Linked DNA regions of Homo sapiens: regions 2, 3, 4, 5, 6 and 7 are each reported to be linked to region 1. Evidence: microRNA targets listed by miRTarBase, many of them from high-throughput screens and not tested one by one. Region 1 holds a microRNA gene; each other region holds the end of a gene's coding sequence. Distances are from middle to middle.

Region 1 (4,065 bases):
AAATTTAAGAAATTGTAGTTAAATGCACATGATTACACTGATGATTATATTCCCAGTTTTTCCCTTTTTTTTTTTTTGAGTTGGAAAGGTAATAGATGGACATAGTGAACAATTCATAGTAGAAAAGCTTGTACACTGAAAAGTAGGCTTTTTCCTACTCCAGGTATCCAGAACCTTTTTTTGAGGCAGTCATTGTTTACAGCTGTTTCTGAATCTTTCCAGAAAAAATGAATTCTTCTGTCAGCACATACATATGTTTATACAAAAGAGAGTATCTCTATCTTCTGCTCTGTGCCTAGATTTTTTTCACTTTATGTGTTATGATTTATTCCAAATCACTACACATAGATCAGCCTCATTCTTAAGCTTTATTAAAGCATACTTTACATACTATAAAATTCATGGCCAGGTGCGGTGGCTCACGCCTGTAATCCCAGCCCTTTGGGAGGCCGAGGCTGGTGTATCATGAGGTCAGGAGTTCAAGACCAGCCTGGCCAAGATGGTGAAACTCCATCTCTACCGAAAATACAAAAATTAGCCAGGCATGGTGGCGCGGGCCTGTAATCTCAGCTACTCCGAAGGCTCAGGCAGAGAACTGCTTGAACCTGGGAGGCAGAGGTTGCAGTGAGCCAAGATCGTGCCACTGGACTCCAGCCTGGGTGACAGAGTGAGACTCTATCTCAAAAAAATTAAAAAAGAAAAATTCATTTATTATAAGTGATTTATAGTAAATTTGTTAAGTTTTACAGCCACTATCATAATTGTGTCTTAGAATAATTCTTTTATCCCGAACAGCTCCCTTTTGTGCTTTTCGAAAGAGAAGTTGCTTGGAAATCTGTGAGCTTTGGAGAATGGCAACTGAATTTGAACCCAGGCTTTGCCATTCACTGTGTGTGAGACTGAGGAATTTACTTAGCCTCTGGCTCCTCTATAAAATAGGAAAAGCAATGGTTGCAGGTAGACTGTTATGAATACTAAATAATAAATGCAAACTACTTGGTGTAAAGCACAGTATTCCATAGATGATGAGCTATTCATGTATTCACTTAAGAAACATTGTTATGTGGGCACAGTGGCTCATGCCTGTAATCCCAGCACTTTGGGAGGCCAAGGCGGCAGGATTGCTTGAAGCCAGCTGTTCAAGATTACAGTGAGACCCCATCTCTACAGAAAAATTTAAAAATTAGCTGGTGTGGTAGTGTGGGCCTGTAGTCCCAGCGACTTGGGAGGCTAAGGCGAGAGGATCGCTCAAGTCCAGGAGTTTGAGGTTATAGTGAGCTATGATCATGCCAATGCACTCCAGCCTGGATGACAGAGCAAGACACTGTCTCTTCAGAACGAAACAAAACAGAACACATTGTCAAGCACTTAGTACGTGTCAGTGCTAGGAACTGCTAGTTGCTACAGTGAACAAGACTGACATGGCCCCTGTTTTTAATGAGATAATAGTCTAGCTAGTTTATCTTCTAGTAATATTAGGGAGGCTTTGAGTGTTGTTGCTGTTTTTCACAGATGTGGAGAGGGGAATGTTAATTCTTCCTTTTAGGAACACATTCCAGATTTTCATTTTCTTTGAGCAATTTTTTTTAATTTGGTGAATGGAATTTTTTCTAAATTATGCTATTAAGAAGTTTAAACTTTTAAGTAGACTTGAGGAGTAAGAGTATGTTTTAGGAAAAGAAAGTAGAGGCTAGAGACTGGAAAGTCATTGGAAAGCTATTTCAATATTATTATAAGTTGGATCTGAGGTAAGACTTTAGGAATAATCTAAATATTGTTGCTGTGGTGTTCTTACAGAGCTTGGTCAGATGTAAACTACTAATATCTTAATACTTACATTAAGAATTAATGTAAATTCTGTCCAGTTCAGATTATTTTATTTTATTTTTGATACAGTCTCACTCTGTCACCCAGGCTGGAGTGCAGTGATGTGATCTTGGCTCACTACAACCTCCACCTCCCAGGTTCAAGTGATTCTCCCTCCTCAGCCTCCTGAGTAGCTGGGACTACAGGCACGCGCCACTGACTTGGCTAATTCTTGTATTTTTAGTAGAGATGGGCTCTTGCCACGTTGACGAGGCTGGTCTCGAACTCCTGGCCACAAAGGATCCATCCACCTCTGCCTCCCAGAGTGCTGAGATTACAGGCATGAGCTACCATGCCCAGCCTCAGACTTAGTTTAAAAGAAAAAGAATTAAAGTGATTATACCTGAGACGAGTTTCCACAAACATTTGTTTAAAATTTCACACTGGAAAGTTTTTTTTTTTTTTGGAAAGTTTTATAAGCCATGTCATTGTCTCCTCTTCTTTTTTTTTTTTTTTTTTTTTTTTGAGATGGAGTTTCACTCTTGTTTCCTAGGCTGGAGTGTAGTGGCACGATCTCAGCTCACTGCAATCTCCGCCTCCCAGGTTCAAGTGATTCTCCTGCCTCAGCCTCCTGAGTAGTTGGGATTAGAGGCATGTGCCACCACGCCCGGCTAATTTTATATATATATATTTTTTAGTAGAGACGGGGTTTCTCCATGTTGGTCAGGCTGGTCTCAAACTCCCGACCTCAAGTGATCCGCCCGCCTCAGCCTCCCAAAGTGCTGGGATTACAGGCGTGAGCCACTGTGCCCGGCTACTCTTCTTTTCACTATTTAGAGAGCAAGATGTCTAGGGAATTTCACTGAAGTGATTGAGGTGGGTGGGGATTCCTTGGTGGAATAGCCCTCTGGACTCTGAGGTGGATCATATGTATGTATTAGTAAATATAGCAAACTGGTTTAATTGATACATCCTGATAATTAAATGGTACATAGGTTGACTGGTCAGTAAGTTAGGTTAAATAAATATGAGCTTTGTCAGAAAAACACAAGTTTTCATTAGGTATATTTATGTTTTATTTACTCAATACATTTACATGGTAGTGTTACAGATTATCTTCTGTGTACCTGCCATTGCGTTGGTTGCGTGGTGTTAGTCGATTTCTGATATTGAAGTAGCACAGTCATACAGAATATTGGCCTAAAGAAATGACAGACAAACTCAGCTATATTGTCTGTCAATTCATAGGTCATTTTCCTGTATACCATTTCTGAATGATGACTTTAATCCTCTTCCATTATTGGATCTTTTTGGTGTTACAAAACTTGAATTTAAGAAAATTGATATTAATTCTTAATCATTTGTTAATTTTATAAAACAGGCTGAAAATCTTTTTTTCTGCTGGAATCAAATGAGAGTCCAAGTGACCACAATTTTCTGTCTTTCTTTATTATACCTTTATATTGTAGCAAGTTGGTAACCATCAAAAGTAACAGCATCTCCACTGGAAATTGGTACACAGTCCACATGGAGTTGCTGTTACACTTGATAACACCATTAAACATATAAGGAGATTCCTTTTGCTCATCATGGGAGCTGTACGATATCTCTAAGTATACTTGTTTCACAGAAGAAAGTCTCGATTTATTCATGTTCTAAATAAGTTTAGGGACTGGTAGATTTGAAACGCTGATGTTTTATTTTGATTTGAATTAATAGTGTCATTTGCATTTTAGATCATATTTGTATTTTATCAAGAAATAATTCCATTTCTGACTTTACTGTCATTGGTCATTTTTTGAATCTGTGAGATAATGCCATTAGAATTTGGGTTGAAATCTGTTACTAGTCAATAAAAACAGAAGAAATAATTTTTAGCATAAAAAAGATAAAATGTAGAAACACTGGCTACCTGGGAAGGAAAAGAAGTTGGTTAAATTTCTTTCATCATTTCAAACAGTTATAATCACTTTCATGCTATTAATGCTATAGTTAACATAGTGAAACTTAGCCCCTAACTTCTGGAAATTATGAGAAATTTAGTAAAAATAGCCAAGGAATTTCCAATATAATTTGAGTGTTAACTTTAGCTACCTCAAATTTTTTCTCAGTTAACAATAATAAACCTTTTGTTCAAAAAATTTATGTTCATTAAATAAAGAAAAATTTCTTCAAAATGGTTTTCTGTCAGCTTTAAAACATAAATCTAGGATTAAACTAAAAATAGAATTTCCCCTTCCAAATTTCACATTGTTCTAG
Region 2 (4,065 bases), not on the chromosome of region 1:
CTTGTGGTCAGGACCCCCCTCCTTGTGGTCAGGACCCACTCGTGGCGGCCGGGGCTGCTGCGGGAGCTGATACCGGGGTGGAGACAGCTACGCCATGGTGAGGACACGGGGCCGGGGGAGGCTGCAGCCGACGGCCAGGCCCCCGTGCGGAAGACCCGGGGCAGCCCCCGCCTAGGAGCTGCGCAGACACGTCCTGGGGCCGCTGTTTCACCGAGACCCGAACGGCTGCTCCCCAGGCTCTGAGTGGCGTGTGCGGCAGCCAAGGCTGGGGGAGCTGTGACTTCTACACGGCGCCAGGGCGCAGGGATCCCTGCTGTGCCAGGGTCTGCCCGTGGGTCATGGGGAACGTGGTTCGAGGCCCCTCTGCTGTAGCCACGCAGCAGCGTCTTGCCGGGTGCGTGGCCTTGTCTGCAGGCTTGAGACCCAGCGGGGCCGTCTGTGCCACGTGGGGTCTGCGCCGGCCCAGGGGCCGCACCGCTGTCAGCCACAGGATGTGTGTCTCGGGGCTGCGGCAGACGGGGCTTCTGTGCCGTGTGGGGTCCGACCCCTCGGCCTGGGCAGGGCGGCCCGTGGGCACCGTGCTGGGGACGACCTCCGGCCTCTGCTCCTTCCCCGGCTCTGAGTCATAAAGGCCTCCCGCTCCCCCGGGAGCCGTGTCTTCTCTAGGAACTGCTGAGCGCGGCTGGGTCTGGCTCTGCCTCATTCCTGCATCTGATGCCCGCCCGTTCTCCCCCAACTCCCCTTTCTCCATCTCCTCCCTCCCCTCCGTCTTGCCCGTCTCCATTTCCTCCATCTCTCCCTTCTCCGTCTCCTCCGTCTCGTGGCTGTCCAGACCCCGTCCCTCCGCAGGCTGGGTCCCCCCTTGTTCTGGGCGGGGCTCTCGGTGCCGGTCTGGTGCCAGTGCTGGGAACCTGTGGTGCCCGTCACCTCTGCTCCCCGTCACCTCGGCTCCACCTCGAGGAGCTGTGTCCTGTCCCACGAGGAGGCGCCCCGGGACCTCAGGGCTGCAGGCCATGGCTGGGTCCGGCTTTGCCTCATCCCCTGTATCTGAGGCCCCCCAGTTCTCCCCCATCTCCCCCTCTCCATCTCCTCTGTCTCCCCCGTCTCATGGCTCTCCGGGCCCCGTCCCCCCCACCAGGCTGGGTCCCCTTATTCTGGGTAGCCCGTCTTGCCATCACTGTCCCTGCCGCCCCTCAGGACAGCGCTGTGGATGCCGGTCTGGTGCCGGCGGTCACCCCTGCTGCGCCTTGAGCAGCTGTGTCTTGTCCCGTGAGGAGGTGCCCCGGGACCTCAGGGCTGTGGCTGGCACCTTTCATGGTCCTCCCGGAACAGAGCTCATGCTGCTGCTCCTGGGTGGACCCGGGGCTGCCCCTGTGAACACTCTTGGTTCTGACACGAAGGCACCCCGTGAGGGAGGGGAGGGGTGGGCTGGGTCGGGTCCCTGCTCGGGGATCTCCAAGGGGTGACGGCCACGAAGTGCGGGGGACCCACGATTGTCATTCAGAGGGTGAGGCGCTGAGCCCTGGAACATCCTGGCTTCTGGCGGGACGCTGGCCACGGTCAGGGTGCCCCGAGTGCTTGTTTTGTGGGGTCCCTGGCCCCCTGCACACGTGAGCCCTCGGGGGAATGGACCCCCAGAACACGTGGAGGGCATGACTGCTGGGCTCTGGGTCTCCCCGCAGCGCCGCCGTCCACGAGGACCCCCGACAGGACCCCCCCACTTCTCCGGCAAAGGTGTCGGTGTGCACGCCCGGCCCCGGCACTGCCCGGGGCATCTGGGGTTGTGGCTGGGGAAGGACGGGGCACTTGGGGGAATGCATTGGGTACAGGGATGTCGGAGGATGCTCAGTGGCTGTGCAGGGGCCTCACCAGCGTCGTGGGTGGGGGACGCTGTCTTTCACGGCCCCAGGGAGGCCTCTCATGTCTCAGCCTTGAACCCTAATTGGGGGGGCTCCCAGTGTCAGTGTGGGGAGGCTGAGGGCGCTGGTCAGAGCCCTCCCATGACCATGGGCTCCGGCTCATAGGTGTGTGTGTGTTGGGGGGTGGTGTCCGGAGGTGGTGTGGGGCGGACATGGTCTCCCAGACGGGCTCCCCGGAGCTGAGGGCAGGGTGGGCCCTGCGGGCCGTGGCTCCCAGTGTCATTTCCCTGCGGCAGAACCTCCTGCCCTGCACCTGTCCTGTTGTTGGGGGTCCTGACCCTTCGCAGACCCAGGTGGGGGCATCCGGGAATTCAGGGGAGCACCTGGTGACACTGAGGACACCTTGGGGACAGCAGCATTCCCCCGGGAGGTGCTGCCTCGTCTACCCACCACCTGGAGCCCCCGCAGTCTCTCCTCAGGGGTCACGGGACCACCCTGTGCGTCCGCCTCCTTCACAGCGACGGCTGCCGGTGGATGAACGGGGTGCGTATGCTGCTCTCGGGGTGGTCCCGGCTTGGCCCTGCCCTGCCGCGTGGACGCTGCCACCTCCGTTTCCTGGGGGAGAGTTTTGTCGTGTGTGAGGACGGGGTTGTTCCCATGGTCACCACCTGTGACCCTCACCTGCGTGCAGAGGGAGCACAGCTGGGCCTGGGCTCATCCACGTCGGGTGCCCCTGGGGTGCTTGTGGCCTCCCCTGCACAGGGAGCTCCTCCTGGTGGGGCCTCCGACCCCCCTCATTTAGGTGTCCCCCAGCTGTGGACGTCCCCACTCTGGCGCGGGCTCCTTCCTTCTGGGGTCGTTTGTGGAACGGGGCCTGGGTCCGTGGCTCCGGGAGGGAACGGCCCCGAGGGTGGGGTCCCCCTGGCTGGGGAGGGGCCCCGCAGAGAGGCCCAGGCTGCACCCCGAGGCGTCTGGCGTGGCTGCGGTCCCCCTCCAGCACTGACGCTTGTAAATCCTGGACGGAGCCACGCTGTGGCTGAGGGAGCCGAGCCCGTGACTGAAAATCCTCCAAACGTACAAGCGTGATCGCCAGAAACGGTTTTGTACGTTTACACAAAACATTCACACAGCCTGTGGTGGAGGCTCCTGTCCAGGACTGAGGCGCCCGGGAGCCGCCGGTCACCGTTGTGCGCACACGGACCCTTTCCACAGACGCAGGCCCCGGAACCCAGGCTGGGTCGGGAACGGCAAGCGCCAGAGGGTGTCCGTGTGGGAACCCGTCCCATTCACGCGCGGCCCTACGTGTCCCCCTGGCACAGAGCTCTGGGCAGGTCCAGCCACGAACCCACAGCGGCAATCAACACGCTTCTGTGAATAAATAAAAGTTTATCATTCCGTACAAACGCACTCATTTTCCACAACAGTTTTTACACGAGCCGCGGTGGCCCGGTGGTGGCACGTGGGGAGCGGCCCCGCGGCGGCGTTCTCGCGGGCGGCGTCACAGCGGCTCCAGGTCCTCGTCCCCGCATGCGTACTCGTACAGGTCCACGGCGCCCAGCGGTGAGGGCGCCTCGAAGAAGGGCCTCTGGGCCAGCGGGGAGCGCAGCGCACTCAGCTTCTGCTCCACAGGGCTGAGCTCGGCCTCGAACCTGCAACGAGGGGATGGCGAAGACGTGGCCAGCAGCGCGGAGCAGGCCCTGGGCCGTTTTCCGGGAAACACAGGCTGCTCGGCCGCCAACCTCCAGCACGAGACAGTCCCCTGAGCCGACCTTGAGCTCCAGCCGCTGAGCCAGCAACGCGCTCCTGGCTGAGGACGCCGGCTCCACGAATGCTCCCGGGGGAGGGGCCTGCGGTGCAGGTGAAAACCCACCCAGGACGGGACGGAGCCCCGGGCGTGAGCTACACACAGAGGACCTGGGCGGGCGCGCCTCTTCCCCAAAGCGAGCTGCACGGGACCTGTGTTTACAACTGGGTCGTGGTGTCCACACAGGACTGGAGAACAAACAGGACCACAGTTTAGACACATTCTCCCAAAGCACAGAAGCTCCCAGTGGAGGCTACCACTTCCGTTCTGACCAGAACACGCAGCAGTGCGAGGACTGGACGCGCGCCTTCCCTTAAGGTCTCGGCAGTGACGTCGGGCGCTGCTCCGGGGAACCCAGCGCGGCCACGGACCACACAGACTCTCAGAGATCCTGTGGGGACA
Region 3 (4,065 bases), not on the chromosome of region 1:
CGACCGGGCGGGCCTACTCCCCGCGGTGCTGCTGCGGCCGGAAGGGCTGGGCGCTCTCCTGAGCGGGACGGGGTTCCGTGGAGGAGACGACCCGGCGGGTGAGGCCCGGGGCTTCCCTGAACCCTCCCAGGCCACCGCCCCTCCCCCCACCGTGCCCACCCGACCTTCGCCGGGCGCCATCCAGAGCCGCTGCTGCACCGTCACACGCAGGGCCCTGGAGCGGCGCCCACGGCGCCAGGGCCGCCCTCGAGGGTGCGTGGACTCTGTGCCGCACCCCACGACGGAGCAGTGAGCGCGAGGATCCCGATGAGGGGATGGACCGCGCCATCCCAGGGCTGGGGAGGAGCGGGGAGGGCGGATCTCCCTGGCCAGCAGGGATGGGAGGGGGCCATTTGCTGTTCCTCTGAGTAAAGCTTGTTCTGCATGACCCCCACCGTCTAAGCGTGCGGAGCCGCGGGCTGGATCTCTGCCAGGCCAGGGTGCGGGATGGGCGTGGCAGGGCCGAGACCATCAGCTCCAGTGCCCTTCTGGCTGGCTAGGTAGGGTGTTGGCCAGGGTGGGGGGCTGGACTGCAGTCCAGAGAGACAGAGCCGGCCAGGAGAGCGGCCTTTATGGGTTTTCCAGGGGTTCAGGATGGACTGGAGAGAGGCCGGACCGGCTAGGGCAGTGCGCCTTTATGGGTTTCCCAGGGGGTGGGGGCGGCGGCCGGCACAGGGAGCTTCATGTTGTGCCACAGGAAGTCCAAGAAAGCGGCGGCCTGGAGGGTCCTGCTGAGCCGCTGAAAGTGCCGCTCTGGGGTTGGACAGAGGGAGGTCAGGGGGGTGGTCCACACGCCCACCAGGATCCCCCAACCCCAGGCTGTGCCCACATACCAGTGTAGGGCAGCAGGGCCTCAAGCGCTGCCCGCACGCCTTCGTAGGCCAGCAGCTCCTCGGGGGCCTCTCGCCTCAAGAGCACACCCAGCACGGCCTGGGCCTCGTGGCAGTGCCGCGAGTTGGTGTTCCACGTGACGCAGAAGCGCAGCAGGGCCTCTGTGGGCAACAGGACCCTCATCGTCTTGCCCAGCCAATCTGCCATGACTGGCCCTTGCCCACCGGGCCACCCACCCTGACTGGCCGCCAACCTTTCTGGTCGCGCCGCAGTCGGAGCATGGTGGCTTCCAGCTTCTCGCAGGCCTCAGGGTCCCTCCGGATGGCTGTGGGAGAAGGGAAGGCTGAGCTGGGGAAAGCAGAGCCCAGTGGTCCGAAGACCCAGCCCCTCGCCCCCCGGGGTGGGCACTGACCCTGGATGACAGTCAGCACGGTGTGGGGCCGATCCAGGGAGATGGCCAGGCCCAGCGCCCGCAGGTACCGCTTCTCATGCAGCAGGTTGTCCAGCTCTTGCTGCCTGTGGGGAGGGGAGGAGAGGCCACTGAGGGCCGCTGGCTGGGGCTGCAGGCAGAGCCATCGGAGTCAGCAGGCAGGGAGCCTGGCACTCAGCCTCGTTTTCCCTACAGCACAGAGCAGGGCTGATGCGGGGAGGGGCGCCACTGCCCTGGCCTTACCTGACCACCTGCTCCTCTTGCCTGGCCTGCTCCTCTGCCTGCTCCGCCTCGGTCACATCCTGGGGTTAGACTAGGGTCAGATGGGGCCTCCACTCCACCCCGACTCTTCCCTGCCCTTGGGGCCCACAACCTTCCAGAGGATGACTCGGGAGTCACTGGCCCCAGTGAGGGCGTGGTCGTCCAGCCGGCTGCAGTGCAGCCCCCAGACCTTGTCCTCGTGGGCATCCAGCGTCCGCACACACTCGTTGTTCTTGATGGTCCAGAGCTTCACGAGGCCATCCGAACCGCTGGGTTTGGGGTGGGGAGAGGCTCAGCGTCAGGCAGGTCCCCCCGCCACCCCCCACTCCATCGCTGCCCCACCCCAGCCCACTCACCTGGACAGCAGCTGCGTGCCACGGCTCACAAAGGCCACCTTCAGCACAGAAGCATCGTGCCCCTCAAATGTCTGCAAGGTGGGGGGTAGGGCATGAGATGTCACCAGGGCGGGAAGTGGGGAGGGTCTGGAGCGCCACTTACCTTGAGACAGCTGAAGTCCTGGAGTGCCCAGAGCTTGATGGTGCCATCAGCTGAGGCCGTGGCCAGCACCTGGTCCATGGGAGAGAACTGGACGCACCAGAGGCCACGCCGGTGGCCTGAGAAGACACCCAGCAGCTGGCACTGTGGCAGGGCCCAGAGCTTGGCCGTGCGGTCCTGTGAGCCTGTGGCCAGCAGCTTGTCGTTGGGGGCAATAGCCACGCTGTTGATGTCCTGGCAATGGGAGAAGGTGGTGGCTCAGCAATCCCCCATCTTCCCCCAGCAAGGGCTTGGCCACACCCCCACCCCAGTGGCTATGGAGTCACCTTATCATGGCAGCGCTGAGTGGTCTGGGCCTGCAGGAGGATAGGGCCGTTGTCTGGGGCTGTGTTCTTGGACAGCAAGGCTTTGGGAAGAGGCCACAGCTTCACAGTGCAGTCCTGGCTGCCTGTCACCAGGAAGGACTCCTTCAGCCTGTGACCCAACAGGAGAGGAGGAGACACAGCTGAGCCCCAGCCAGCCCTGATGGCCAGCTCCCCACAGGGCCAGGCTGGGAGCCCACGGTCCAGACCACGGGGCCTGTCCCAGGATGCGGGTTGGCCTGGGTCACCCCCAGGCACCTGTAGGATCAAGCCCTGTCTACATTGTCCACCCGCAGCACCGGGTGGCTCAGCCCTAGCCACAGGACCCTGTGCCTACATGCAGGGGTCACCTCTCCACCTGGGCCTCGTGCAGGGTCATTCTCTCTGCCTAATGCCCTTCCCCCTTTAACCACTTCACCAGGGCTACTTCTGAGGACTGACCCCGAGGCACCTAGGGACTCTCCTGTCCTGTTCTGTTCCACATCTTTGGGCTGGAGCCTCAGAGCAAGCCAAAGCTGCCACTGCCTCCCCAGCTCCCTGAGCGGCAGCCCTGCTGGCAGGCCTGGGCCTCCACCTCCCTGACACCCCTGGGCCCAGCCCCGACTCACTACCTAGAGCAGCAGACGGTGCCCACACTGTGTGTGTGACCGGAACCCTGAGCCACGCACATCACCTGGCCAGCCTTGTTCATTCTCCAGATACGGACGCTCTGATCCTGGGGACAGGGAGTTGAGGAGAGAGGCTGGTCCATGGGCCTACTGCGTGGCCTCCCCGCCTGGTGCCCCTGCCCCTACCTCTCAGGGTGCCTCACCTTGGCACAGCTGGCAAAGAGCCACCCCTTCCGGAACACATCCAGGGCCAGGACGATATCTGAGATGTTGTGGGGAGGTATAGGTCACACAGCAAGACGGGGGAAGGGAAGCAAGCAAGGGACCGAGGCGGCTCCCAGGGTGTCAGGTGGGCTGGCCCCACTCACCCGTGTGGCCGTGGAGGATCTGGCAGGCTGACGTCTGCAGCTCAAACACTTTTAGGCAGGGGCTATTGGAGGCCACGACAACGTGGGAGTCCTCGGGCCCAAGAAACCGGACATCCAAAACCTCCTCACTGTAGCCAGCGAACTGCGGGGTGGCAGGGAGCAGGAGATGTGAGCCAGGACCTGTGTAAGAGGAGGGCTGGTGCCCGCAGCCTCCAGACTGAGCAAGGGCAGGTGTGCACCTGTTTCTGCAGCCGCAGGGAGCGAGCCTCGTAGAGCAACAGGTTGTGGTCGGCGGTGGCGGTGAGGACCACGCCGGCGGTGTGTGCCAGGGTGCAGTGGGTCAGCTCCTGCCCAGGGCCCGGCGGCTGGGCCTGCGTGTACACACACTGCCCAGAAGCTGCCTCCCACACGCGCAGAGTGCCTGTGTGGGTGGGGACAGGGCTGCTGAGACTCTCAGGTCCACAGGCCTTCCCCAGCCCCTACCGCCTGCCCATGTCCCGGCCCAACACACCTTGGTCGCCAGCTGTCAGAAAGTACAGCCCTGGGGACTTCACACCCAGCTGGGACACTGGCTCCTCTGGCAACAGCACAGCAGCCTCCACGCTCTGGAGACGAATTGGGTCACAGGCTGCTATCATGCCCCCTCCCCACCCAACTCAACCAGCCCTGGC
Region 4 (4,065 bases), not on the chromosome of region 1:
TTAATTCAGGAAGAGGATCACCTAGCCCGGGTAGAAGAGGCAATCACCCGTATGCTTGTGTGTGCCCTGAAAACTGCAGAGAATCCACAAAATACCAGAGCCTGGTTAAACCCCACTGAGGTAGGCGGCTTCTGGTCTTCATCATGGCAGTTAGTTTCCTGTGGTAAACCAGCCCTGACTAGAACATATGTTTTCCAGTGTAACTAAATGTATGTAACCATTTTAAAAGGTTTTTCTCTTCCCTTAGGTTGAGGAAACGTCCCATGCAGTCAACTGTTGCTACTTAAATGCAGCTGTTTCTGCATTTTTTGATCGCTGCAGAACATCTGAGGTAGTAGAAATCCAAGCACTGAGAACAGATGGAGAGCACATGAAAAAGGAAGAATTAAATGTGTGCAACCACATGGAGGTGGGCCAAACAGGTAGCCAGAACTTGACCACAGGAACAGACAAACCGGAGGCAGCAAGTCCCTTTGGCCCTGATCTGGTCCCTGTAGCACAGAGGTCCGAAGAACCGCCTTCAGAAAGAGGAGGCATATTTGGAAGTGATGGGAAAGACTTTGTGGACAAGGATGGAGAACACTTTGGAAAATTGCATTGTGCCAAGAGACAACAAATAATGAGCAACAGTGAAAATGCAATTGAGGAACAGATTGCCTCAAATACTACTACGACTCCTCAAACATTCATTTCTACGGATGACTTGCTGGACTGCTTGGTGAATCCACAAGTAACCAGGATAGTGGCACAACTTTTGATACAAGGAAGAAGTTTATGATTCAAGTGGAAGATGACTTTTAAAATAATATTTTTTAAATATATATTTTTAAGTAGTATGACTAAAATAAAGATGAACCAGCAAAAGGTCAGTTTGCACATTTGTAAATGTATTTATCCTTACCGAATTACATGTCAGTCTGTTGCCACCTTCTTTCATGCACATTCCTCTTTGGCCAAACTGGCTGCTCTTTGTTTGTAAGCTTTTGTTCCTCTCTCATCCCATACTTTTAGCCTGTGTCAAATGTAAGTCCCAAGTATTTCCAGCAGGAAGTAATGTCTTCCTCAGCCTCAACCAGGGACCAACCGGCTGCTTACTTTTGCAAATAAAATTTTACTAGAACACGGCCATGCCATTCATTTACATATTGTCTATGATGTCTTCAGGATTACGACGGCAGTGTTGAGTAGTGACAGAGAGTGTATGGCCCAGAAAAAATATTCAGTATCTGTTCCTTTACAGAAAAGCTTTGTCAGCCTCTGGTCTAATGGATCCAGTGGGTCTGGAGTCTAGCCTCGCTCTGAAGTGATCTCACTTGTAACAGCTGCAGAATTCTCACTGGTTATCCCCTGTCATTCAGAGTAGGATACCAATCAGGAGAAAAGTAGTTGTGGGTTCAGTATGAGGCCTCTTTAGGCAAGGAACTTGGACATCTAGGGACACCAATCCTAGGGCTAAAAAGGACTCAAACTCCCCAAACAGTGACTAAAGGCTTAGCTCAGTGAAATTGATCCCACTCTCATTACATTTGCAAGATCCAGGGATAATTAATTACCATTACTGTCTAAGAAGGAATTTAGAAATTAGAAAAGCATATTGATCTCTGAGTAACCATGCATGAAACAAATACACAACAGAAAAGATATGCAAAGTCACCTTTGAGATGAACTGATTGCTGGCTATCCTACTGTCCTCGAGGTAATGAGTATCAGTAAATCCAAAGAAAGTATGTGTTGTCACAGAGGGAAGGAGGGTATTGTTATGTAAGCATGCCAGGGAAAGAAGGGCCTGAAAAGAGCCCTTCTGTGGCTTTTATCTCCATCGGACCACTATGTATTTACCTATGAATTTCATTACTATCTCTCTCAACCAAAATGTAACTCCTTAAGGGTAGGGACTGTGATTATTGCTGTTATTTGTAGAGCCGCAATGAGTACCCAGCATGTAGTAGGTGCTTATTAAATATTTGAATGAATGAATAATAAAAATGAGACCTCATTGACAATACCTCATCAAGTACATTGGGACAGAGAATGTGGCCAAAGTAAGGTAGCTGTGATTCTTGGTATAGTCCTTTATTTATTTATTTATTTATTCATTCATTTTATTATTATTGTACTTTAAGTTTTACAGTGCATGTGCACAATGTACAGGTTTGTTACATGTGTATACATGTGCCATGTTGGTGTACTGCACCCATTAACTCATCATTTAGCATTAGGTGTATCTCCTAATGCTATCCCTCCCCCTCCCCCCACCCCACAACAGGCCCCGGTGTGTGATGTTCCCCTTCCTATGTCCATGTGTTCTCATTGTTCAATTCCCACCTATGAGTGAGAACGTGCAGTGTTTGGTTTTTTGTCCTTGCGATAGTTTGCTGAGAATGATGATTTCCAGTTTCATCCATGTCCCTACAAAGGACATGAACTCATCCTTTTTTATGGCTGCATAGTTTTCCATGGTGTATATGTGCCACATTTTCTTAATCCAGTCTATCGTTGTTGGACATTTGGGTTGGTTCCAAGTCTTTGCTATTGTGAATAGTGCCGCTATAAACATACGTGTGCATGTGTCTTTATAGCAGCATGATTTATAGTCCTTTGGGTATATACCCAGTAATAGGATGGCTGGGTCAAATGGTATTTCTAGTTCTAGATCCTTGAGGAATCGCCACACTGACTTCCACAATGGTTGAACTAATTTACAGTCCCACCAACAGTGTAAAAGTGTTCCTATTTCTCCATATCCTCTCCAGCACCTGTTGTTTCCTGATGTTTTAATGATCACCATTCTAACTGGTGTGAGATGGTATCTCATTGTTTTGATTTGCATTTCTCTGATGGCCAGTGATGATGAGCATTTTTTCATGTGTTTTTTGGCTGCATAAATGTCTTCTTTTGAGAAGTGTCTGTTCATGTCCTTTGCTCACTTTTTGATGGGGTTGTTTGTTTTTTTCTTGTAAATTTGTTTGAGTTCATTGTAGATTCCGGATATTAGCCGTTTGTCAGATGAGTAGGTTGTGAAAATTTTCTCCCATTCTGTAGGTTGCCTGTTCACTCTGATGGTAGTTTCTTTTGCTGTGCAGAAGCTCTTTAGTTTAATTAGATCCCATTTGTCAATTTTGGCTTTTGTTGCCATTGCTTTTGGTGTTTTAGACATGAAGTCCTTGCCCATGCCTACGTCCTGAATGGTATTGCCTAGGTTTTCTTCTAGGGTTTTTATGGTTTTAGGTCTAACATGTAAGTCTTTAATCCATCTTGAATTAATTTTTGTATAAGGTGTAAAGAAGGTATCCAGTTTCAGCTTTCTACATATGGCTAGCCAGTTTTCCCAGCACCATTTATTAAATAGGGAATCCTTTCCCCATTTCTTGTTTTTGTCAAGTTTGTCAAAGATCAGATAGTTGTAGATATGTGGCATTATTTCTGAGGGCTCTGTTCTGTTCCATTGATCTATATCTCTGTTTTGGTACCAGTACTATGCTGTTTTGGTTACTGTAGCCTTGTATAGTTTGAAGTCAGGTAGCGTGATGCCTCCAGCTTTGTTCTTTTGGCTTAGGATTGACTTGGCGATGCGGGCTCTTTTTTGCTTCCATATGAACTTTAAAGTAGTTTTTTCCAATTCTGTGAAGAAAGTCATTGGTAGCTTGATGGGGATGGCATTGAATCTATAAATTACCTTGGGCTGTATGGCCATTTTCATGATATTGATTCTTCCAACCGATGAGCATGGAATGTTCTTCCATTTGTTTATATCCTCTTTTATTTCATCGAGCAGTGGTTTGTAGTTCTCCTTGAAGAGGTCCTTCACATCCCTTGTAAGTTGGATTCCTAGGTATTTTATTCTCTTCGAAGCAATTGTGAATGGGAGTTCACTCATGATTTGGCTCTCTGTCTGTTATTGGTGTATAAGAATGCTTGTGATTTTTGCACATTGATTTTGTATCCTGAGACTTTGCTGAAGTTGCTTATCAGCTTAAGGAGATTTTGGGCTGAGACAGTGGGGTTTTCTAGATATACAATCATGTCATCTGCAAACAGGGACAATTTGACTTCCTCTTTTCCTAA
Region 5 (4,065 bases), 210 Mb from region 1:
ATTGGCCACTGGGTGTTCACCCATGTAAATGAGGTGAAGTAGTGGCCTGTAATCAGTCCGATTGGTTGCGGAAAGCAGAGGTGGGCGGATGATGAGGTCAAGAGATGGAGACCATCCTGGCCAACATGGTAAAACCCCGTCTCTACTAAAAATACAAAAATTAGCTGGGCGTGGTGGGTGCTAATGCTAATGCATTATAATTAGTGTATGATGAGCAGTGAGGAAGACCAGAGGCCACTCTCATCACCATCTTGGTTTTGGTGGGTTTTCCTGGCTTCTTTACCACAACCTGTTTTATTAGCAAGGTCTTTGTGACCTGTGTCTTGTGCTGTCCTCCTATCTCATCCTGTGACTAAGAATGCCTTAACCTTCTGGGAATGCAGCCCAGTAAGTGTGGGGGAATCACCTGAACGCAGGAGGTGGAGGTTGCAGCAAGCCGAGATGGTGCCACTGCACTCCAGCCTGGGCAACAGAGAGAGACTCTGTCTCAAAAAAAAAAAAAGGCAATTAATTAATTAATTAGAGGTACTTACAATTTCCCATCTGCCACAGAAAAGGTAGGGGTTTGCAAAGGGGTAGCCTCTGGTCCTTTTGTTACTTAGGCTTGGAAAGTTAGGATTTTCTTTTCAATTTAGTTCTAGGAAGTCAGCCCAAAACAGCCTTAGGTTCCCTGCCTCCAGACCCTGGTCTCCTGCCTCAAACATATCCACGCACTGCAAGGGTGGTGCACCTGCAGAGGGCAAGGAAGCTCCGCAGCCCCCCACTAAACCTTGTCCCATGCATCTCCTCCATTTGGCTGTTCCTGAGTTGTATTCTTTTTTTTCCTTTTCTTATTTATTATTTTTTTTTTTGAGACGGAGTCTCGCTGTGTCGCCAGGCTGGAGTGCAGTGGCGTGATCTAGGCTCACTGCAACCTCCACCTCCTGGGTTCAAGCAATTCTCCTGCCTCAGCCTCCTGAGTAGCTGGGACTACAGGCGCCCACCACCATGTCCAGCTAATTTTTGTATTTTTAGTAGAGACGGGGTTTCACCATGTTGGCCAGGATGGTCTGGATCTCTTGACCTTCTGATCCACCCGCCTCAGCCTCCCAAAGGGCTGAGATTACAGGTGTGAGCCACCGCTCCTGGCCAGAGGAAGAAATTCTTACCAGCCAAGTTTCTGGTCTCTCTCTCTCTGTATATGTTGTGTAAACGGTAAATGCCACTATTTGTCTTCTCTGCGAGGGTCTGATTAGTAGAAAAAAAGGATTTGTCAGACCAGTCTTAGGCTGTAGCAAATCTGGTGTACTTTATGCTAAGAATTTGTCTTTCTTTGTTGTTCTGTAATGAAGAGGGGAGTATCAGGGGATAGAACGTGGGTTTAGGATGCCTATAAGCCAAGTTTTCAAGCCAGCCCATCAGGCTGGTCATTTACAAATGTTGCTATGGGTCCCTGAAACCAATGCCAAATGACATTTCTCTGCCTTGTTTTGTGTCCATAAGAGCTTAACCTTGTGGCCATGTGGGGATACTTTATCTTGGTTTCTGCCATCTAGAGGACAGGAATTTTGGGGTTCATGTCATAGTTAGCCCTAAAAATTATCTTGAGCAGGCCGGTCGCGGTGGCTCACACCTGTAATCCCAGCACTTTGGAAGGCCGAGGCGGGTGGGTCATGAGGTCAGCAGATCAAGACCATCCTGGCTAATATGGTGAAACCCTATCTCTACTAAAAATACAAAAAAATTGGCCAGGCGTGGTGGTGGGTGCCTGTAGTCCCAGCTACTCGGGAGGCTGAGGCAGGAGAATGGCGTGAACCCGGGAGGCGGAGCTTGCAGTGAGCCAAGATCACGCCACTGCACTCCAGCCTGGGCAACACAGCAAGACTCTGTCTCAAAAAAAAAAAATTATCTTGAGCAGTTAAGAGCCTTTGAAATCTTGAATTTGGCTAGACTTCTTCTGGGAATAGCAATAGAAACTGCCCAGGGCTGGGTGCGGTGGCTCATCCCTGTAATCCCAGCACTTTGGGAGGCCAAGGTGGGTGGATCACAAGGTCAAGAGATCGAGACCATCCTGGCCAACCTGGTGAAACCCATCTCTACTAAAAATACAAAAATTAGCTGGGCGTGGTGTCACACACCTGTAGTCCCAGCTACTCAGGAGGCTGAGGCAGGAGAATCACTTGAACCCAGGAGGCAGAGGTTGCAGTGATCCGAGTCTGTGCCACTGCACTCCAGCCTGGCAACAGAGTGAGACTCCGTCAAAAAAAAGAAAAAAAAAAGAAGGAAACTGCCCAATGCTGTGTAGCTCAGTAGCTAAGGCTTTGTCCTTTGACAAGGGTGATCTGGGTTGAATTCTTGGCTTCTGGAATGATTCCTTTCTGGTTTGTTATTTGTGTAACTTTGCCATTATTAAGGTTATTTTTCCCCCCATAGATAGCTTCTGATTTCCTGTCTTGGATTTTCTTTTCTCTAAGCTACCCTTGGGGAGATTCTAAATGTTGTTTAAAAAAAAAAAAAAAGAGGAACTGCTGGCCAGGCACGGTGGCTTATGCCTGTAATCCCAACACTTTGGGAGGCCAAGGTGGGTGGATCACCTGAGGTCAGGAGTTCGAGACCAGCCTGGCCAACATGGTGAAACCCCATCTCTACTAAAAATACAAAAATTAGCTGAGTGTGGTGGCACATGCCTATAATCCCAGCTACTTGGGAAGATGAGGCAGGAGAATTGCTTGAAGCCAGGAGCCAGAGGTTTCAGTGAGCCGAGATGGAGCCACTGCACTCTAGCCTGGGTGACAGAGCAGGACTCTGTCTCAAAAAAAAAGAAAAGAAAAGAAAAGAAAAGAAACAAAATCACCATCCCAGACCCCTGTCAATATCACCATCTGCCCATCCCTCAAAGTCATCTGCCCCCCACCCCCAGAGCTCTGGTGGCTGTTCAGGTTGCTTGTTTTGGCCAGCTTCCTCACTAGCCTTGAAGGCAGGACTGACAGCTTGTTCACTGGTGTGTCTCTCATGTGCCTAGAAGACTTTCAAATATTTTTTTAAATGCTGGGATTTCCTAAATCGGAAAGGAAAAACTTCAGAGTCATTTGGACAGGTTTATTGAAGCTGAGCAGTTTCCCCATAATCTAGATGACTTCAGGTTACACGCTGTGTGGCTCTCTCCAGCCACGAGTCCTCGTCGCCAAATGGGATAGATAAACGTCTGTTCAGTCTGCAATATAATTTGGCATAAAGCTGCAGCCACAAGTGGGCTCTGCTGCTGGATGTGGATCAGGCTCTCTGGAATGTCTGTTTGCACACTTGACCTTCACAGAACATTTCCTAGGGCGTAAGGAGGAAGGGAAAAAGAAGGATCAGTTTGCATGTGGTCTGTTTTTACTCTCAACACTTATTTTTTATTGTGTTTTAACCCTTTTCTGGAACATGTTTTTTTCTTTTATGAGATGGGGTCTCACTCTGTCGTCCTGGCTAAGTACAGTGGTGAGATCTCGGCTCACTGTAACCTCTGCCTCCCAGGCTCAAGCGATCCTCCCACCTCAGCCCCCAAAGTAGCTGGGACACTGCAGGCACGTGCCATCATGCCCGGCTAATTTTTGTGTTTTTTGTAGGGACAGGGTTGCCACTGCCTAGGCTGGTCTTTTTTTTTTTTTTTTTGAGATGGAGTCTCACTCTGTAGCCCAGGCTGGAGTGCAGTGGTGCAATCTTGGCTCACTGCAACCTCTGCCTTTAAGCGGAATTGCCTTCAAGCAATTCTTCTGCCTCGGCCTCCTGAGTAGCTAGGATTACAGGTGTGTGCCACCATGCTCTGCTAATTTTTGTATTTTTAGTAGCGACGGGGTTTCACCATGTTGGCCAGGCTGTTCTTGAACTCCTGACCTCATGATCTGCCCGCCTCAGCCTCCCAAAGTGCTGGGATTACAAGCATGAGCTACTGCGCCTGACCCCTAGGCTGGTCTTGAACTCCTAGCCTCAAATGATTTTCCTGCCTTGCCCTCCGAAAGTGCTAGGATTATAGTTATAAGCCACCACACCTGGCCTACTCTCAACACTTCTGACACCAAAGGTGTGGGTTTTTAAACGCCT
Region 6 (4,065 bases), 6.1 Mb from region 1:
CGCACTTACGAAAAAATCTGGTAATTATTTTATTATTGCTTTTATATTGTCTCATGTTGTTTCCCCAGTGAACAACTGTAAAAATCTATAAATATGTAAATCCTGTTGTCACATTTTAAATTGTGGGATCCTCTAAGAAGTAGCCTGCAGCTCTCTCAAACTCTAAGAGGCCCTAACTGCTAAATGTGTTACAGACATTATCTATTTTATCCTCACACCTACCATGTAAGACAGGGACTAATCTTCCTACTTTAAAGATCAAGAAACTGAATCTAAGTAGTGTCTCACAATTATACAGCTTATAAATGGCATGGCCAGGACTCAAACTCAGCCCACCCATTAGTCTACCACCATACAGTGCCTCCTATATTGCAGTGGTCTTGTTAGTCAGGACTAATGATAAAGTAATGTGATAGGTTTAAAAGCAATCACCAAGTCAGAATTTCTACATGCCAGTCATTACTGTCTCATCTTTCAAGGAAATCACCACGGAAGACCATACTCTTATTCTGATGACATTAATGTTGCTTAGAGCTTTTTTGAAACTCTCATTTGCCCACTCATTACACAAATATTTATTTGTTGCCCATGAACAGGCACTTTACCAGGACCTGGAAATAAATGGTGAACAAAAACAGAAACAGTCCCTCCCCTCATGGAGCAGAGGCTAGTAGGGAGACAAAAGACCTCCAAGAAATATTAATATTAAATTGCAAATGTGCCAAGTGCTGGAAGGAGAGATATATGATCTGGAGACATTGTAATAGATGTGCTGTGGTTAATGAAAGCTTCCTTGAAAAAGTGATGCTGAAGGTGAGATCTGGAAGATGATCAAGAGTTACAAGGAGAGGAGAGGGAACACACTGCATGTGCAAAGACCCTGTGAAGTAACGAGCAGATAAAGAAGTGGGGGGGGGGGGGCCAGATCATGCATGGCTTTATAGGTCTTGTAAAAGAGTTTTGAATTTGTCCTGAAAGCCAAATGAAGACTTTAAAAGCATTTATAGACAGAGGGATAACATGATCCATTCTGCATTTTAAGATGATCCCTCTGACTGCATTTGAAGAGGGCTGAGTAGATGCTGGGAGGTAAGTTAGGAGACAATTGCAGTGTTCCAGGCCAGTGATGATGGCAGCTGGGCTGCAAGTAGTGGTGATAATGAAGATGGAGAGAGGTGCATTGATTCAAAAATGCTAATGGGCAAATATTTTTGTAGATTCTCAATGGTTACGAGTGAATGTGACTTTTGGAACTAGCTTAAAGTAACTCAGAACCAAATCTATATAAATAAAAGCCATGTATGTGCTTGCATGTTTGCTCAATCTGGCTTTGATAGCTTTCTTTAGAGCTCCGAAAGTGTGTTAAGCAGTGGCATATCATTCAAATCAATGTATGGCTGACCCAACATGACTACTTGGAAATATAGATTTCTTCCTCCCAAAACAGAAATAAAATTCAACTGTATTCTCCAGCACAGTCCCTGCTGTCAACACATGAAGGCACTGAAAGATAAACAGTGCTCAATTAAATATGTGTAAAATGAGGTACTATTTAAGTGTGACAAATAAGCCTTAAGAAATGTAAGTAAGACAGGCCGGGTATGGTGGCTCACACCTGTAATCCCAGCACTTTGGGAGGCTGAGGCAGGTGGATCACTTGAGGTTGGGAGTTCGAGACCAGCCTGACCAATACGGTGAAACTCTGTTTCTACTAAAAATACAAAAATTAGCCAGGCGTGGTGGCGCGTGCCTGTAATCCCAGCTACTCAGGAGGCTGAGGTGGAAGAATCCCTTGAACCCAAGACCTGGAGGTTGTGGTGAGCTGAGATTGCATCACTGCACTCCAGCCTGGGCGACAGAGAAAAAAAAAAAGAAATGTAAAAGAAAAAATGCACAAAATACCCAATTCTAGGCAGAATATATTAAAATCAACCTTTCACTAGGTCTATACCAGGCCAAATAACTTACCTGCTTAATACCATACCACTGGATGGTATGGTAATAAATAAAATCCGTATCACTGGATGGTATGGTATGGTAATAAATAAAATCCATACCATTGGATGGTATGGTACTTCAGAGAGACTCGGTAATCTGTACTGTTTCCCCTAAAAATATAACTTAATGGAAATTACAATTCTTCAAAACTTTTTAAACAGAAGGAATGCATATTGACTTGAATTAAATGAAAATATAGAAAATAATAATTTTCATAGATCAATTTATTTAGAATTACAAATATTAAGAATAGAAGATTTATGCATTTCTTAATTAACATAACAGTTTAGCTAAATATAAACTCTGCACTAAAGTTCTGCAGTGGCACAATACCAACAAAGAATACGGAAGCCTTTTTAAACTATACAAAAATTTCAAATGGAAAATAATCTTGTTTCAGTTTTATTATACATTAACATATAAAAAGTCTCATTTTATGAGACATCTAAAGGAATTAAAACCACCTCTACAGCTATATCTTAAACTCCAAATTTGAAAAAAATTTATATTTTGAGTTTATAATATTCTATTAAAACGAAGAAAATTCCAAATACATACTTTTTACAAGATTAACATTTTAGGCAGCGTTTTCCTAAAAAAGAAAAACAACCAAAACAAGCCTTTCTTCTGCATTTCACAGCACTGGTTATTATATTTGTTTTCCTTATAAAATCTTTTTACTTTATAAATTGTGTACTGTTGGATTTTAACCAGTAATCTGGTTTAAAAGTTGTGCAAATAAACAAAAAAATATGAAAATAGTGTGTTATCATTTTTTTTTTAATAAATCTCACAACAATGCACTTTTGACCTGAACTGATGGGAAGACATGCCAAATCCATTTTTAGAAATTTAGCATTTTGCACCTTTTTTCCCCCTGTTCCTTCATTTTCTTTCAACAAACAACAAAGGTTTCTTTTATATGTTATGATAAATTAAAATATTTATTATTATAAAATGATCTACAGAACCATGTCACATTGCAAGTATATATAACATATACTTGTAAAGTCCACATTTCCCATCTATATTTCAGTGGTTTCCTTAAAACTAGGACTTCCCACACCTCATGATGTTATCTTTTGAAGACTGAGATGGTGATCAACTAAATCAAGTGGAGTTGTAATTTTCTGGATGGAATTTCCACACTGCCACCGACATGAATAAAAAGACCAGGTTTCTTCATACTCTCCATTGCAGCAGTTGTCTGCATGTGTTGCGGTGAATTCATGCACATTAAAAAAAATGGTCAATGTATTCTTCCACGAAATTATATTATGTTCAGATATTTCAGTTTAAAAATATTTGTGAATATAAACATATGTAACATAAGCAATGCTACTGCATCTGAATAATAAAAGAAAAATAAATATAATGCTGGTCAGCAATGCTGGTTTAAGAAGCAGTACAGTCTATTAAAATGCCTTATTTGGAGATTTAAATTTCCCTTGTTTTCCAGCAGTTAGGTTATTTGGTGTTGGAAGCCTATATAAAGGAAAAGAACTTCTCAAAAACAATGTCCCGTGCAGTTGGAATAATGAAATCTTTACTCAGTCTCTGTTGGTGTTATTTGCTGCAAAGGCATGTAAGTTTCCCATCTGGCTCAGGCCACTCTGAATATGTGCAACATGGATTTCTACATTATTCTGAAAGCAACTAAAGAAAGAAGAAACATGGTTAACTACTTTATTTCAAAAAATTAAGAAAAAAATTTTTAAAAGAAGACCTGAATTTTAGTTAGGAAACAGCTATGATAAATCTTAGGGAAGGAATAAATCTCCTCTAATATATTAGCCATAATTCTACTTCAGTAGTAGTTGAACAAATATGCTCTAAAGAAGCAAAGGAGCCACGGGGGGCTGGAAGGAGAAGATGAGTCTCTCACTGACTGGGGAAGCTCTACCTCTAAGCTCAACCTCCATGCTGACCCCAAACCTAAATATATGTCCTGATTTCTTTATATACAAAATCCATGTGAAATTTCTATTCTGTCCATAGGCTGGATATAAGTGAAAAGCTCTTACAAATATATTTAACGGATAATAATATATGAGTACTTCACAAATA
Region 7 (4,065 bases), not on the chromosome of region 1:
GAAATGGCCACAATCAGTGAATCTCCTGGTCCAAGTTTAGAGACGCCAGTGAAATGGTTGGTACAAATCCCTTGTGGAGCGAGTGAGGCAGTGAGTATGAGAGCTTCCAGAATGGGTTGTCTAGCCAGCTCTTAGTGAATAGAGTTTAAAAGGAGGTGACAACTGCTGAATTTTTCCAATTATTCACTTCACATTTCTTTCATTTCTTTTTAGAAGTTTGCACGGCTACAGAGTATCTTCCCAGATTTTTCTAAAGCTGGCATGGAACGAGCTTTTCTCCCAGTTACCTCCCCAAATAAGCATTTAGGGCTAGTGACTCCTCACAAGACAGAACTGGTATGAGCAGGATTTCTGCAGGTTCTTCTTCCTGAAGCTGAGGCTCAGGGGTGTGCCTGTCTGTTACACTGGAGGAGAGAAGAATGAGCCTACGCTGAAGATGGCATCCTGTGAAGTCCTTCACCTCACTGAAAACATCTGGAAGGGGATCCCACCCCATTTTCTGTGGGCAGGCCTCGAAAACCATCACATGACCACATAGCATGAGGCCACTGCTGCTTCTCCATGGCCACCTTTTCAGCGATGTATGCAGCTATCTGGTCAACCTCCTGGACATTTTTTCAGTCATATAAAAGCTATGGTGAGATGCAGCTGGAAAAGGGTCTTGGGAAATATGAATGCCCCCAGCTGGCCCGTGACAGACTCCTGAGGACAGCTGTCCTCTTCTGCATCTTGGGGACATCTCTTTGAATTTTCTGTGTTTTGCTGTACCAGCCCAGATGTTTTACGTCTGGGAGAAATTGACAGATCAAGCTGTGAGACAGTGGGAAATATTTAGCAAATAATTTCCTGGTGTGAAGGTCCTGCTATTACTAAGGAGTAATCTGTGTACAAAGAAATAACAAGTCGATGAACTATTCCCCAGCAGGGTCTTTTCATCTGGGAAAGACATCCATAAAGAAGCAATAAAGAAGAGTGCCACATTTATTTTTATATCTATATGTACTTGTCAAAGAAGGTTTGTGTTTTTCTGCTTTTGAAATCTGTATCTGTAGTGAGATAGCATTGTGAACTGACAGGCAGCCTGGACATAGAGAGGGAGAAGAAGTCAGAGAGGGTGACAAGATAGAGAGCTATTTAATGGCCGGCTGGAAATGCTGGGCTGACGGTGCAGTCTGGGTGCTCGCCCACTTGTCCCACTATCTGGGTGCATGATCTTGAGCAAGTTCCTTCTGGTGTCTGCTTTCTCCATTGTAAACCACAAGGCTGTTGCATGGGCTAATGAAGATCATATACGTGAAAATTATTTGAAAACATATAAAGCACTATACAGATTCGAAACTCCATTGAGTCATTATCCTTGCTATGATGATGGTGTTTTGGGGATGAGAGGGTGCTATCCATTTCTCATGTTTTCCATTGTTTGAAACAAAGAAGGTTACCAAGAAGCCTTTCCTGTAGCCTTCTGTAGGAATTCTTTTGGGGAAGTGAGGAAGCCAGGTCCACGGTCTGTTCTTGAAGCAGTAGCCTAACACACTCCAAGATATGGACACACGGGAGCCGCTGGCAGAAGGGACTTCACGAAGTGTTGCATGGATGTTTTAGCCATTGTTGGCTTTCCCTTATCAAACTTGGGCCCTTCCCTTCTTGGTTTCCAAAGGCATTTTATTGCTTGAGTTATATGTTCACTGTCCCCCTAATATTAGGGAGTAAAACGGATACCAAGTTGATTTAGTGTTTTTACCTCTGTCTTGGCTTTCATGTTATTAAACGTATGCATGTGAAGAAAGGGTGTTTTTCTGTTTTATATTCAACTCATAAGACTTTGGGATAGGAAAAATGAGTAATGGTTACTAGGCTTAATACCTGGGTGATTACATAATCTGTACAATGAACCCCCATGATGTAAGTTTACCTATGTAACAAACCTGCACTTATACCCATGAACTTAAAATGAAAGTTAAAAATAAAAAACATATACAAATAAAAAAATCCCGACTTTGGGATGAGTGCTAGGATGTTGTAAACCAGTTTGAGAATCAGAATCCAAAATGAGAGCTGAAAGATTGGCTGAGTCTTTCTCGGAGGGAGGGCATGCTGGCAGACAGAGCTTTGTAAACAGCATCCTCCTTCCCAGAGATGCTTCTGCTTCCATCCTGGGGCCACGTTGCTACCCAGTACATGAGCAGCTCATACTAACATGCACGGTCATGGGTGGGCGGGATGGAGGGAGGGTTTCTGCTTCAGAAAGATGTGTAACATCAGGGGCTTTGTGCCTGGATTCATGGGTTTCACTCAAGATTCTCAAATAGGTCCCTTCCCCCCAAAATGTTAAGAACGATGTGGTCTAAGTAGTTGTAATAGTTATAAAAGCATCAGGCCAGGCACGGTGACTCATGCCTGTAATCCCAGCACTTTGGGAGGCCGAGGCAGGCGGATAACGAGGTCAGGAGATCGAGACCATCCTGGCTGACACGGTGAAACCCCGTGTCTACTAAAAATACAAAAAATTAGCCGGGCGTGGTGGCGGGTGCCTGTAGTCCCAGCTACTCAGGAGGCTGAGACAGGAGAATGGCATGAACCCTGGAGGCAGAGCTTGCAGTGAGCCGTGATTGTGCCACTGCACTGCAGCCTGGGCGACAGAGCAAGACTCCGTCTCAAAAAAAAAAAAAGCATCATAAGTGGAAGTCTCTTTACAAAGATGAATACACATAAAATGTCTCTAAAAGCTGTGGAATCACTTTCAATGGAATCAAGTCTGTTCTCAAATGCTTTACCAAAAGTGCCAGGGCATGGTAATTGAGAGTTCACAGAGCTCCTAGTCACCTGAGTGTGTAGCCCAGCTTCAAGATTTGGAAGTTATATTTCCTTGGGCAGAGGACTTACCCCTCTAAGCCTTAGCTGGCCAATCTTTAAAATAAGAATAGTATCTGCCTAATAGGTTTATTGTGAGGATTAAATAAGATAATATATAGAAGCAGTAAGCCTAGTGTGTAGCAAAAGGTAAGCCTTTGACTGATATTAGAACAAGAAAGGAGAAAAAGGTAGCAGAGAAAGTATCAGTAACCATAAATCTTTGACAAAGTGGTTTTGTTAAAAGGAATGAATTGGCTTGGTGAAGGAGTCATGCTGCTTTCAGAGGATTAATACTCAGTGTACTAAAATTCTTCGTGGCCATTAGAATTACAGTACAGGACACACCAGGAAGAAGGGTTGCCCTTTGTCAGTTTGGACTGAATTAAGCTGGAAACATGATGGAAATTTGAGAGCAGGCGGACTCAATGTTTCAGACCTAGTCTTTGGTATAAGAAAAAGTTTGTGTGTGGCGGGGCACGGTGGCTCACATCTGTAATCCCAGCACTTTGGGAGGCCAAGGCGGGCGGATAATGAGGTCAGGAGTTTGAGAGTAGCCTGGCCAGTATAGTGAAACCTGTCTCTACTAAAAACACAAAAATTGGCCAGGCGTGGCGGCGTGTGCCTGTGGTCCCAGCTACTTGGGAGGCTGAGGCAGGAGAATCACTTGAACCCGGGAGGCGGAGGTTGCAGTGAGCCGAGATCGCACCACTGCACTCCAGCCTGGGCAACAGAGTGAGACTCCATCTTAAAAAAAAAAAAAATGTGTGTGTGTGAGGCAGAGAGAGAGAGAGAGAGAGAGAGAAGGGGGTGTAGAAGAGAATGGAGGGCAGAATTTGTCAAGGAGAGTGGACTGGTCTCAACTGCCTCGATTGAGGCCTACGAAGATGTTTCAGAGGAAGGCAGATGATCATGGACCATATTTATTCTTCATCTCCATTGCCAGGGAAAGCTTTGTATTCAAGGCTGTCCCTTGTCTATGAAATTAGTTCTAGAGTTATAATAATTTTGCCTTGGGATGTCCCAGGGCACAAATACAGATGTGACTATCAGCTCCACATTCTTCCAAAAGAAAGCCTGTGGTTTTTTCGTATTTATAATAATACTTAGGAGGTTTCCTCGTAGAAAATACTGAGCCACACTCATGGAATCCAGCAGAGCCCGATTATTTCCTGGGGTTGCAAGGGAAGAGATAATAACAGCGACTTCTGGACG

What was found. Region 1 holds the annotated microRNA hsa-miR-215-5p (AUGACCUAUGAAUUGACAGAC, at 3,039-3,059, opposite strand). A microRNA usually pairs through its seed, bases 2 to 8, with sites in the 3' UTR of a target mRNA and lowers its output. Matches are read on the target gene's strand: a 7mer-m8 pairs with bases 2 to 8, a 7mer-A1 pairs with bases 2 to 7 and ends in A, and an 8mer does both.
Region 2: miRTarBase lists PPP2R3B as a target of hsa-miR-215-5p. The part of its 3' UTR that is shown has no 7-base or 8-base seed match.
Region 3: miRTarBase lists NOXO1 as a target of hsa-miR-215-5p. The part of its 3' UTR that is shown has no 7-base or 8-base seed match.
Region 4: miRTarBase lists HSPBAP1 as a target of hsa-miR-215-5p. The part of its 3' UTR that is shown has no 7-base or 8-base seed match.
Region 5: the mRNA of RBP7 is a reported target of hsa-miR-215-5p. The part of its 3' UTR that is shown has no 7-base or 8-base seed match.
Region 6: miRTarBase lists LIN9 as a target of hsa-miR-215-5p. Seed matches in the 3' UTR shown: 7mer-A1 at 2,805-2,811.
Region 7: miRTarBase lists CD83 as a target of hsa-miR-215-5p. The part of its 3' UTR that is shown has no 7-base or 8-base seed match.

The regions. Positions count from the first base shown.
Region 1 is chr1:220,114,878-220,118,942 of GRCh38, forward strand. It overlaps MIR215 (microRNA 215), which reads right to left and starts at 3,085; the gene lies at 2,976-3,085. The region is part of intron 12 of IARS2 (isoleucyl-tRNA synthetase 2, mitochondrial); the gene reads left to right. It overlaps MIR194-1 (microRNA 194-1), which reads right to left and starts at 3,364; the gene lies at 3,280-3,364. LOC124904515 (a long non-coding RNA gene) reads right to left here. Exons shown (of 2, transcript XR_007066883.1): 2 at 2,865-3,006.
Region 2 is chrY:331,010-335,074 of GRCh38, forward strand. It overlaps PPP2R3B (protein phosphatase 2 regulatory subunit B''beta), which reads right to left. Exons shown (of 13, transcript NM_013239.5-2): 13 at 2,924-3,508. The coding sequence ends at 3,358. Among named protein-coding and RNA genes, the nearest start is that of LINC00685, 14 kb to the left of the region's middle.
Region 3 is chr16:1,975,279-1,979,343 of GRCh38, reverse strand. NOXO1 (NADPH oxidase organizer 1) reads left to right here. Exons shown (of 8, transcript NM_172167.3): 8 at 1-427. The coding sequence ends at 292. It overlaps TBL3 (transducin beta like 3), which reads right to left. Exons shown (of 22, transcript NM_006453.3): 9 at 3,906-3,999; 10 at 3,634-3,815; 11 at 3,395-3,536; 12 at 3,230-3,288; 13 at 3,030-3,133; 14 at 2,383-2,530; 15 at 2,060-2,290; 16 at 1,918-1,988; 17 at 1,674-1,830; 18 at 1,544-1,602; 19 at 1,283-1,386; 20 at 1,124-1,195; 21 at 873-1,031; 22 at 1-792. The coding sequence ends at 659. Among named protein-coding and RNA genes, the nearest start is that of NOXO1, 4.2 kb to the left of the region's middle. RefSeq lists a silencer at 1-28 and enhancers at 1-172, 173-752, 753-1,332.
Region 4 is chr3:122,737,058-122,741,122 of GRCh38, reverse strand. HSPBAP1 (HSPB1 associated protein 1) reads left to right here. Exons shown (of 8, transcript NM_024610.6): 7 at 10-120; 8 at 248-1,124. The coding sequence ends at 778. Among named protein-coding and RNA genes, the nearest start is that of HSPBAP1, 55 kb to the left of the region's middle.
Region 5 is chr1:10,015,020-10,019,084 of GRCh38, reverse strand. It overlaps RBP7 (retinol binding protein 7), which reads right to left. Exons shown (of 4, transcript NM_052960.3): 4 at 3,064-3,303. The coding sequence ends at 3,253. Among named protein-coding and RNA genes, the nearest start is that of UBE4B, 16 kb to the left of the region's middle.
Region 6 is chr1:226,228,953-226,233,017 of GRCh38, forward strand. LIN9 (lin-9 DREAM MuvB core complex component) reads right to left here. Exons shown (of 15, transcript NM_001366245.2): 15 at 2,205-3,654. The coding sequence ends at 3,549. Among named protein-coding and RNA genes, the nearest start is that of MIXL1, 7.3 kb to the left of the region's middle.
Region 7 is chr6:14,134,895-14,138,959 of GRCh38, forward strand. It overlaps CD83 (CD83 molecule), which reads left to right. Exons shown (of 5, transcript NM_004233.4): 5 at 214-2,012. The coding sequence ends at 342. Among named protein-coding and RNA genes, the nearest start is that of CD83, 19 kb to the left of the region's middle.